Regions from separate parts of the Homo sapiens genome. Here regions 1, 2 and 4 are each linked to region 3. The links come from fine-mapping of genetic effects on gene expression. A gene starts in region 3. Each other region holds a variant in brackets. All regions are shown on one strand. Distances are from middle to middle.

Evidence for each region. PIP is the estimated chance that this variant, and not a neighbour inherited with it, causes the effect.
Region 1: its variant is the best candidate, but not a certain one, in a credible set for the expression of TRAP1 in lung (TOPMed, PIP 0.58).
Region 2: its variant is the best candidate, but not a certain one, in a credible set for the expression of TRAP1 in whole blood (TOPMed, PIP 0.57).
Region 4: its variant is the best candidate, but not a certain one, in a credible set for the expression of TRAP1 in whole blood (INTERVAL, PIP 0.89).

Annotation. Positions count from the first base shown.
Region 1 is chr16:3,673,355-3,676,040 of GRCh38, reverse strand. It overlaps TRAP1 (TNF receptor associated protein 1), which reads left to right. Exons shown (of 18, transcript NM_016292.3): 7 at 1-5; 8 at 644-717; 9 at 1,547-1,702. It also overlaps the pseudogene LOC124903630. Among named protein-coding and RNA genes, the nearest start is that of DNASE1, 20 kb to the right of the region's middle. The variant T/A (reference allele first, on the strand shown) is at 1,185.
Region 2 is chr16:3,682,967-3,685,652 of GRCh38, reverse strand. All of the region lies in intron 4 of TRAP1 (TNF receptor associated protein 1), which reads left to right. Among named protein-coding and RNA genes, the nearest start is that of DNASE1, 30 kb to the right of the region's middle. The variant T/A (reference allele first, on the strand shown) is at 1,365.
Region 3 is chr16:3,716,178-3,718,863 of GRCh38, reverse strand. TRAP1 (TNF receptor associated protein 1) reads left to right here and starts at 1,340. Exons shown (of 18, transcript NM_016292.3): 1 at 1,340-1,443. The coding sequence starts at 1,356. RefSeq lists silencers at 990-1,599, 1,620-1,739.
Region 4 is chr16:3,626,415-3,629,100 of GRCh38, reverse strand. It overlaps a transcript of DNASE1 not described here. Among named protein-coding and RNA genes, the nearest start is that of SLX4, 16 kb to the right of the region's middle. The variant TTTTTTTTTTG/G (reference allele first, on the strand shown) is at 1,154.

The DNA of each region.
Region 1 (2,686 bases), 43 kb after region 3:
GCGAGGTGAGCGGGAGCCCGGGCCCAGGCTCACTCTGGGATCCATGTGTGGCCTGGAGGCCACCAGGTCAGCAGGCATTTTCCCTGGTTCTACCTGCACGTAGGGTGCACAGGCAGAGCCGTGAAGGGCCGAGCCGCTGCGGGACTGGGAGGGGGGCTGCCCGCCAGGGCTGCGTAGCATCGAGCTCCTGCTGGGACTGGGAGGAAGCTGGCCTGGCTGAGGCGGACCTCCTCCTCCTTCCTCTGCGTGGCCCTTGGCCTTTAGTGCACCTGGGGGTTTGGCGCAGTCCTGTCCCAGGATGTGGGCGTGGCCTTCCCTCTTTGTGTCCTGCTGGACACTCAGGGAGGCCCTGAGTACCCCCAGGAGTCAGCCCAGAAAGCCATGTTCCAGCCACAAGCTGACATTGCAGTCTCGCAGCAGCCGGGGCCTCCACAGCTCTGGTTCTCACGTGGGCTCCGCTGCTGCCCCCGTGAGACTGGGGGGAGGACAGGTGTCCCCACTGTGCCCTGTTTCTGTACCTGTGAAGTGTACACAGCATGGAGGACCCTTCCCAGCAGGCTGGCGCTCATCCTGGAGCTGCTGCAAAGCTTGCGTTTCCACAAGCATTGTAGATGCAGTGTGGTTTTTCTTTTGTCCCTTCCAGATGTGGTAACGAAGTACAGCAACTTCGTCAGCTTCCCCTTGTACTTGAATGGAAGGCGGATGAACACCTTGCAGGTGAGCCCTGAGTTCCTCTAGGGACTGGTCAAACATGGAGACAAATCTGTACGTTTCAGGGCAGCGGAGAAGAGATGAGCCCAGGGGATGCGGCCCAGAGTCACAGGGCGAGCTGCTCTGTGGAGATGAGACCTGGGTGTGGGGATGAGACAGGGGCCCAGCTCTACCACAGCCCTGCCCCTGTGCACCGGGCAGCCGGGGTCAGGGGTCAGGGTTCACTGAGGCGTAACGCCCATCCCAGCTGGCTCACCACATCAGTGTGCAGCCATGGTGTTCAGTGCAGCCACAGAGCTGTGCAGCCACCCCGCATCAATTCCAGAACATCCCATCACCCCAAAAAGCAGCCCTTTCCCCACTGCCCCTCCCCCAGTCCCAGCAGCCACGGTCTCCTTTCTGTCCATTGTGCTGCCTGTTCCAGACGTTTCTCCTGGATGGAGTCACACGGCATGCTGTCCTCAGTGACTGAC[T/A]TCCCCCTCGCGGCTCAGCTGCGGTGCAGCGTGGGTCGTCATCGCTCTCACGGCCCACACTGTATTCGTCAGCTCGCCCCTGCTGGGCAGCGTCATCCTCTCCCACAGGCCCCCTCAGGTCCCGGCTGGTCCTCCTGACATGTTGTCCTGAGGAGCTCCTGCCCCAGAGCCTTGTGTGTCTCCCCTGCACTACCCGGCATAGCCCAGCGGTGGGGCTGGAGAGGGGTCTACGCCTGAGACCACCGCCCGTCTGTCCCAGGAGCCTGTCCAGGGCCAGGCGCTGCACTGGCTCAGGCCTGCACGGTGGTGGAGAAGACGTGCGTGGTGAACACGACGCCCTCCCCGCCGATCTCCGTTTCCAGGCCATCTGGATGATGGACCCCAAGGATGTCCGTGAGTGGCAACATGAGGAGTTCTACCGCTACGTCGCGCAGGCTCACGACAAGCCCCGCTACACCCTGCACTATAAGACGGACGCACCGCTCAACATCCGCAGCATCTTCTACGTGCCCGACATGGTGAGGCACTGTGGCAGTCCCACGGCCCTCAGGGTGACTCTGTTGTCCCCTGTGGCATCAGCTCTGCAGATGTCACATGATTAACATGGCAGTGTGAGGGCATGAAAAACATAGGTAGTGCTGGGTGTGGTGGCTCACGCCTGTTATCCCAGCACTTTGGGAGGCTGAGGAGGGTGGATCACCTGAGCCCAGGAGTTGCAGACCAGGCTGGCCAACATAGTGAGACCCCATCTCTGAAAAAAAAGAAAAAAAGAACAGATGCCTCTGGGTGGGTAACCACAGAGGTTTCCTCTGTCTCAGGGGTCACACATGGCGAGGGAAGGATTGATGGGCATCTCAGTGCAGGCTGGGGTGGAGGCTTGTGGACTGGGGTGTGCCTGGGGAGGGCCCTCAGAGCCTACATCATCTGCTGTGGATCAGTGGATGCTGTCCTGCCAGGCGCTCTGGGAAGGGCCTGTGGTCTTGCCTCTCCGTTGGCCTCTCTGTGTGCTTCCTCCACACCCTCCACCTCCCCTGGTTTCCTTTACCACATTGAAGTTCCCGCAAATCCTGCCGTAAGGAGACCTATTCGGGGCTGAGAGCCAGCCCGTCCTGCCCCCAGGCTCTTCTGTCCTTGGCTGCCTGGAAACTCTCCTAATGTCCTGCACAGCTGGCATCCATCTTGGAAAGAGCCAGCCAGGTGTGGCCTCCAGGGGCTTGTTAGAGTCTCAGGCCCCACCCAGGGCTCCTGCGTGGGAGCCCACATTTTAATAAGATCTCCCCGCATTTTAACCGGATCCCCCCCATTTTAACCAGGTCGCCCCACATTTTAACCAGGTCTCCCAACATTTGAACTAGATACCCGCCGCATTTTAACCAGATCCCGTGATGAGGTGTGGGTCCCGGTTCGGGAAGTACCAGTGTGGAGCAGGTGTTGGCAGGCACGTTCCACGAGGGCCAGACAGGAGCTGGTCCCAGCGTTTCGGGCCCGGTGTCTTTCGTAGC
Region 2 (2,686 bases), 33 kb after region 3:
CCCCTCAAAATGCCGACGAAGCAGTGCTGTGGCTGCTGCTGTAGCCTTGTGGAAATTTTAAGGCTGAAAAGTTAGGCCAAAGAGGATCAGGTAGGGGCCCTGAGAGACATTGCATCCAAAGACAGCTGCCTCAGGACCTGTCATCCCAGGGTCACGGCGTCATTGCGGGGGTGTCTGTCTCTGTGGAGAGGTGGACAGACTGGCCTCGGTGGGATCTGAGTATTCCCTTTTAGGGTGCTGGCTTGCTCTGAAGGTCATGCCACATAAATGAATGCAGGCACGCGTGAATGAATGGACTTGTGAAGGGATGGCTGTTTTAATTAAAGGAGGGGCTTTTGTGAGGTGTCAGCTTTACGCACTCCCTCTTGGGTTTAGAGAATCCAGACTGAGCCCCGTGGTACGTGCCAGCTGTTTGTCATAGCCCTTGGTCATAAGGATTGGGTGGGGAGTGGGTTTCTTCTCTCCCTGCCTTTGCTGAGCTGGCCTGGCTGTGGAATGGGCCCTGTGGGCAGGGCTGCAGCGCCCTGTGCTTTCCTCCTGTTTTCAGCACAGAGGTTCCTTGCAGATGATTGAAAATGGATGTGCTGGGGCAAGGGGTCATGGGGACATGATTCTTGGTCTTTAGCAGAGGGGCCAGTCCTCATGTGCCAGTACTTCCTGGTACTAAGACCATTTATGTTACAATAATGATTTTTGGTTTTGTCTTTTGTCTTCTTTTTTCTTAAAGAACAGTTCTAGATTTACAGAAAATTTGAGCAGGTAATTTAGAGCTCCATTATATCCTTTGGGACCCAGTTTTTCTATTCTCAATAGCCGATGGGAGCGTCATGGTCCATTTGTTTCATCTTTTTTCCTTTTTTTTGGAGACAGAGTGTGGCTGTGTCGCCCAGGCTGGAGTGCAGTAGTGTGATCTCAGCTCACTGCAGCCTCCGCCTCCCAGGTCCAAGCAACTCTCGTGCCTCAGCTTCCTGAGTAGCTGGGATTACGGATGTGTGCCATGATGCCCAACTAATTTTTGTATTTTTAGTAGAGATGGGGTTTCACCACGTTGGCCAGGCTGGGCTTGAACTCCTGCCCTCAAGTGATCTGCCCGCCTTGGCCTCCCAAGTGTTAGATTACAGGCATGAGCCACCATACCCAGCCCATTTATTACAATTAATTAACTAATATTGATAGATTATTCTTACCTAAAGTTTTAGAAAAGGAAGCTTTCTTGTGGGGTCTCAGAGGTATTATGCCATTCCATCTCATCTACTGATATCTCAGCTACATTGCTTTTTGTTATTTTTAGGGGATTTTCTAGGGAATAAAATATGCAGCCTTAATTTATCACTGTCTAGCTTGAATTGATATTTAACACTTCA[T/A]TGTAAGAATCTTACAACAGTATCATTCCGGTGGCAAAATCATCTTTTTCTTTTGATGTCAAATATTTTATGTATATACCTGTTGTAAACCCTCACAAATTCCTTTTTATTTTTGTTTGAGACAGAGTCTCATTTTATTGCCTAGGCTGGAGTGCAGTGGTATGATCTCACCTCACTGCAGTGAGGCCTCTGCCCCCCGGATTTAAGTGATTCTCCTGCCTCAGCCCCCCAAGTAGCTGGGTTTACAGGCACATGCCACCACACCCGGCTAATTTTTGTATTTTTAGTAGAGATGGGGTTTCACCATGTTGGTCAGGCTGGTCTCAAACTCCTGACCTCAAGTGATCTGACTGCCTTGGCCTCCCAAAGTGCTGGGATTACAGGCGGGAGCCACCGCGCCTAGTCTCACCATTTCCTTTTAAAATCACATTGTGCGGGTCGCCTGGCAACAGATGATTTCTGTCTACATCTGAAAAATCTATAGTTTTTTTTTTTTTTTAGTAAATATTTTAGAACAGATTTCAATTTTCAGAAAAATTTTAAAGATAGTACAGCGTTGCCATCTACTCCAACACCCAGCTTCCCTTATGATTGAAACCTTATGGCCGGGTGCAGTGGCTCACGCTTGTAATCCCAGCACTTTGAGAGGCCAAGGTGGGCGGATCACCTGAGGTCAGGAGTTCAAGACCAGCCTGGCCAGCACGGTGAAACCCCATCTCTAATAAAAATACAAAAATTAGCCAGATGTGGTGGTGTGCACCTGTAATCCCAGCTGCTCAGGAGGCTGAGGCAGGAGAATTGCTTGAACCCGGGAGGCGGAGGTTGTGGTGAGCTGAGATCGCGCCATTGCACTCTAGCTTGGGCAACAAGAGTGAAACTCGTCTCAAAAAAAAAAAAAAAGAAATGTTAGTATATTACATTGGTTACAGTTAATCAACCGGTATGGATATATTATTCTTAACACAAGTCTATTCAGGTTTCCTTAGTTTTTACCTCATGTCCTTTTTCTCTCCCAGCATCCCACATGACATTTAGTTGTCCTGGCCCCTTAGCTCCTCTTGGCTGTGACAGTTTCTCAGACTTTCCTTGTTTTTGATGACCGGGAAGATTTTTTTTTTTGAAATGGGGTTTTGCTCTTGTTGCCCACGCTGGAGTGCAGTGGTGTGATTTCAGCTCACTGCAACCTCCGCCTCCCGGGTTCAAGCAATTCTCTTGCCTTCAGTCTCTCGAGTAGCTGGGATTACAGGTATGTGCCACCATGCCTGGCTAATTTTGTATTTTTAATAGAGACAGAGTTTCTCCATGTCGGTCAGGCTGATCTT
Region 3 (2,686 bases):
ACGCTGCTCTCCAACTCCTGACCTCAAGCAATTCGCCCACCTCGGCATCCCAAAGTGTTGGGATTACAGGTGTGAGTCACCGTGCTCGTGCCCACAACCCCTTATCTTCACCCAGACACTCTTTTTATTGATTCCAGGTCTGTATAACTCAACTCTTTTTTTTCTTTTTTTTGTTTTCTTTTTTTTTTTTTTTTGAGACGGAGTCACAGCTCTGTCGCCCAGGCTGCAGTGCAAGTGGCACGATCTCGGCTCACTGCAACCGCAGCCTCCCGGGTTCACGCTATTCTTCCGCCTCAGCCTCCCCAGGAGCTGGGACTACAGGCACGTGCCACCTTGCCCAGCTAATTTTTTGTATCTTAGTAGAGATGATGGGTTTTCACCATGTTGGCCAGGCTGGTCTCGGACTCCTGACCGCAGGCAGTCCGCCCACCTCAGCCTCCCAAAGTGCTAGGATTACAGGCGTGAGCCACCGCGCCCAACCAGAACTCAACTCTTTTAACCAATTGCCAATCAGAAAGTATCTGAATCCACCTATGACCTCTAAGTATTTCACCCTTTGAGTTGTCCTGCCTTTCCACACGGAACCAACCTATGTCTTACATGCATTGACTGATGTCTTATGTCTCTCTAAAATGTATAAAACCAAGCAAGCTGTAACCCAAGCACCTTGGGCCAAGTTCTCAGGACCTTTTGAGACTGTGCCTCCCTCCATGCACACTCATATTTGGCTCAGAATAACCTTCTAAATACTTTAGAGTTTGACTCTTCTCGACAAGGACAAGAGAAGTGGAATAAACGAATAACCGCAGTTTTCCTGGTGGTATTGGTCACTGGGTTCAGGTTTTGGAGTAGTAGCCAGTCAAGCCTGGAATCCCCTTCCTCATTCGCTTTAGCTTTTTGTCCAGTCTTGGTTTGCAAGAGACTTGCAGCGGCCTAGACGGATGGCCGGGATTCACAAAGGTCGCAGACACGGGAACTGCTTCTTCCCCAGCGTCGCCTCCACACCCTCGCGTGGATACTGACATCCGCCCCATTCCAGGAATGCGCACAGCTAGGCGCAGCCGGCCAGCGTGGGCCGGGGGCGGCGGGGCCACCTCCCCCACCTCCGCGCGCAAGGCCCGTCGCCCTTGACAACGCGATCCAAGGTCACGGAGGTCCCACCCCCAGGCCCGACCGTCCACGAGACGGGTAGTACCCCGCCACGCGCCCGAGCAGGCAGCTGCCCGGACAGCCCGGCGCCCGCCGTGACGTCACCGCCCCGCGCCCGAGGAAGCCCCGCCCCGCGCAGCCCCGTCCCGCCCCTTCCCATCGTGTACGGTCCCGCGTGGCTGCGCGCGGCGCTCTGGGAGTACGACATGGCGCGCGAGCTGCGGGCGCTGCTGCTGTGGGGCCGCCGCCTGCGGCCTTTGCTGCGGGCGCCGGCGCTGGCGGCCGTGCCGGGAGGTGAGGGCGTCCTGGCTGGACGGGCAGCGGGCGGGCCGGGCCACGGAGACGGCAGGGACGTCCCTGTGCTCCGGGGAGCGAGGCGCCGGCACCTGCTTCACAGGCGTGGGAGGTCCGGCGAGGCCAAGCGCGGCAGACGCGTTTACTTTCGCTCCGCTCCTCGCCAGCTCCAGCTTGGCTGCCTTTTCCTCGGCTGGACTCCCCTCGCCACCCGCCCATGGGAGCCCTGAAGGAGGCTGGGTCTTGGGGGGTCGCGGGGTCGGGCGGAGCGGCTGCGGGGTCGTCCCTCCTGGAGCTTCGGTCCAGTCAGGTAGCGCACGTGCAGGTGGAGCCGCTGCGGAGCGCGGAGTCTTTGCGGGTGCATGTTGCGGGGAATGGACTCACTCGGGGTGATCGTGCTAGTTCCATGGATCGTGCTTTACCCCTCCCCGCCTCCCAGTAGCGCACTGAGGGTTCATTTGTTAATTCGTTCATTGGACGCACATGTGAGCGCCCGCTCAGTGCCCGGCGCCGTGCAGGTTCTGGGGACGCCACAGTGAACAAAACCTATAGCAGTCATCCGGGTCCCCAGAGCAGGTGGACTCGATGTCGTTGACGCAGCTGTGTCCTCGGGGCCTGGAATTGATGGATGCGCCAATAAATGTTTGTAAAACAGAGAGAACGACCCTAACCTCTGCTTTCCCAGTCCCCACTCGGAGGTAACAACAGTGAAAGTTTCGGCATTGCTTCGGGGCTGTACACAGTGTTATACGTGTAAATATAAATGTCTGCGTATAAGTATTTTTTATTCTAAAAAGCCTAAACCATGTATGCATTGTGCTACGTTGTACTTCAGAAAATTTTAACGCTCCCAGCATTCTTTCCACATCTTTTCATGTCAGTGTATACAGGTCCATGTGCCTTCCAGTGACCACACAGTATTCTGTATGATGGACGTGTCATTTGTTTAAACATTGTCCTATTAGTGGACGCAATAAAGGTTATTTCAGGTTTTACTTTTTATTACAATGCTGCATAGAATGGGTGAGTACTTAAATATTTGTTCACGTGCGGTATTTCTTTAGCCTTACATAATTAGAATTTTAGAATTGATATTTCAGAGCCTATGCATTTTTGAAATGTTAGCAGATACTGCCAAATTGTCCAAAAAGGCCTTATCAATTTATATCCCCTTTAGCAGGCATCAAGACTGCCTATTCCAAAGGTATTTTCTTCAACGCTGAATCTTATGTCTTTTCAAAAC
Region 4 (2,686 bases), 90 kb after region 3:
TCCAGGGTTTAAGCAATTCTTCTGCCTCAGCTTCCCAAGTAGCTGGGATTACAGGCGCCCACCATCACACCCGGCAAATGTTTGTATTTTTAGTAGAGACAGGGTTTCACTATGTTGGCCAGGCTAGTCTCAAACTCCTGACCTCAAGTGATCCGCCCGCCTCGGCTTCCCAAAGTGCTGGGATTACCGGCGTGAGCCACTGCGCCCAGCCTAAAAGTTTTTAAAGAAAAAAAAAAAAACAGAGCCAGGCACGGTGGCTCACGCCTGTAATCCCAGCACTTTGGGAAGCTGAGGCGGGCGGATCACGAGGTCAGGAGATCGAGACCATCCTGGCTAACACGGTGAAACCCCGTCTCTACTAAAAATACAAAAAAATTAGCCGGGCGTGGTGGCGGGCGCCTATAGTCCCAGCTATTCGGGAGCCTGAGGCAGAAGAATGGCGTGAACCCGGGAGGCGGAGGTTTGCAATGAGCCGAGATTGCGCCACTGCACTCCAGCCTGGGCGACACAGCGAGATTCCATCTCAAAAAAAAAAGAAAGAAAAAAACAGAAATGCACATTGAATGAACATCATACTCAATAGTGAATGACTAAAAAATTTTCTTCTAAGATGAGAACATTCACCTTTACCACTACTATTTAACCTAGTACTGGAAGTTCTAGCCATAGCAATTAAGAAAAAAATATATATCCAAATTGGAAAGAAAAAAGTAAAATTAATTCACAGATTTAATATGATATGTAAAAAACTAGGCCTAAACATTACACACAAAAAATAATTACAATAACAGAATCAGCAAAGCAGCAGGATACAAAGTCAGCACACAAAAATCATTTGCATTTCTATATACTAACACTGAACAATTTGAAAAGGAAATTATAAAAACAATTCCACTTACAATAGCATTAAAAAGAATAAAATACCTAGGACTTTTAACCAAGGAGGTAAAAGATTCATACAATGAAAACTACAAAACATCGCTGAAAGAAATTAATGAAGATATAAGTAAGGAAAAACATCACACTTTCATGGGTTGGACGATATTGTTAAGACAAGATATCTTAATATTGTTAAGATGTCAATACTCCCAAAAGTGAGCTACTGATTCATATGTAAACTGAAGCAAAATCCCAATGACTTTTTTTTTTTTTT[TTTTTTTTTTG/G]CAGAAATAGAAAATACATGCTGAAATTCATATGGAATCTCCACGGACCCCAGATAGCCAACACCATGTTGAAAAAGAAAAACAGATTCAGGATTCACACTTCCTGATTTCAAAACTTACTAACAAACTGCAGTAATCACAACAATGTGGTACTGGCAGGAAGACAGACATACAGACTATTGGAATAGAGTTGACAGCCCAGAAATAAATCCTGGCATATATGGTCAAATGATTTTGACAAGGATGCCAAGACCATTCAACGGGGAAAAGATAGTCTTTTTAATAAATGTTGCTGAGAAAACTGGATATCCACATGCAAAAGAACATGGATATCATATCAAAGTCATAGGAAACAAAAGAAAACACAGACAAGCCAGGTGCACTGGCTCATGTAACACTTTGGGAGACTGAGGTGGAAGGATCACTTGAGCCCAGGAGTTCCAGACGGGCCTGAGCAACATAGTGAGGCCTTGTCTCTATAAAAAAATAAAAAATAAAATTACCCAGCCATGGTGGCACACACCCATAGTCCCATACTCGGGAGGCTTAGGTGGGAGGATGGCTTGAGCTAGAGTTCAATGCTGCAGTGAGCCGTGATCATGCCACTGCACTCCAGCCAGGGTGACAGAGCAAGACCACCCTGTCTAAAAAAAAAAAAAAAAGGATATGTCATGCAAACACTAATCAAAAGACAGCTGGACTGGCTATATTAATGTCAAACAAGCAAAGTAGACTTCATAGCAAAGAAAATTACCAGTGATAAAGAGGGCTGGGTGCAGTGGCTCACGCCTGTAGTCTCAGCACTTGGCCAACATGGGAGGATCACTTGAGGCTAGGAGTTTCAGACCAGCATGGGCAACATAGGGAGACCCTGTCTCTACCAAAAAAAAAAAAAAAATTTAAATAAGCATGGTGGCATGTGCCTGTGGTCCCAGCTCCTCAGAAGACGGAGGCAGGAGAATCACTGGAGCTCAGGAGTTCAAAGCTGCAGTGAGTTTTGATCACATCACCGTGCTCCAGCCTGGGTGACATAGCAAGACCCTGTCTCTAAAAAACATAAAATAAAATAAATAAAAGAGGGCTATTACATAATGATAAAAAAGGTCAATTCATCAAGACAGCATAATCCTAAGTGCATACGCATCTAACAAAAGAGATTCAAAATAAATGAAACAAAAACTGACAAATGAAGAACAGACAAATCCACTATCAGAGCTGGAGACTTCAACACTTCTCAATACATAGAACCAGTAGACAGAAAATCAGCAACCTGAACACCATCATCAACCAACTGGATCTAACTGACATCTAGAGGACACTCCACCTAACAACAGAGAAATATATAGTGTTTTCAAGTGTTCAAGCTTGGAGCACTCAAGATGGACTATATTCTAAGCCATAAAAGTCACAAAACAAATTTTTAAAAATTGAAATCATATAAAGTATGATCTCTGACCATAATGGAATTAAACTAGAAACCAGTAACAGAAAAATGAGGGAACTCTCCAAACACTTGATATTAA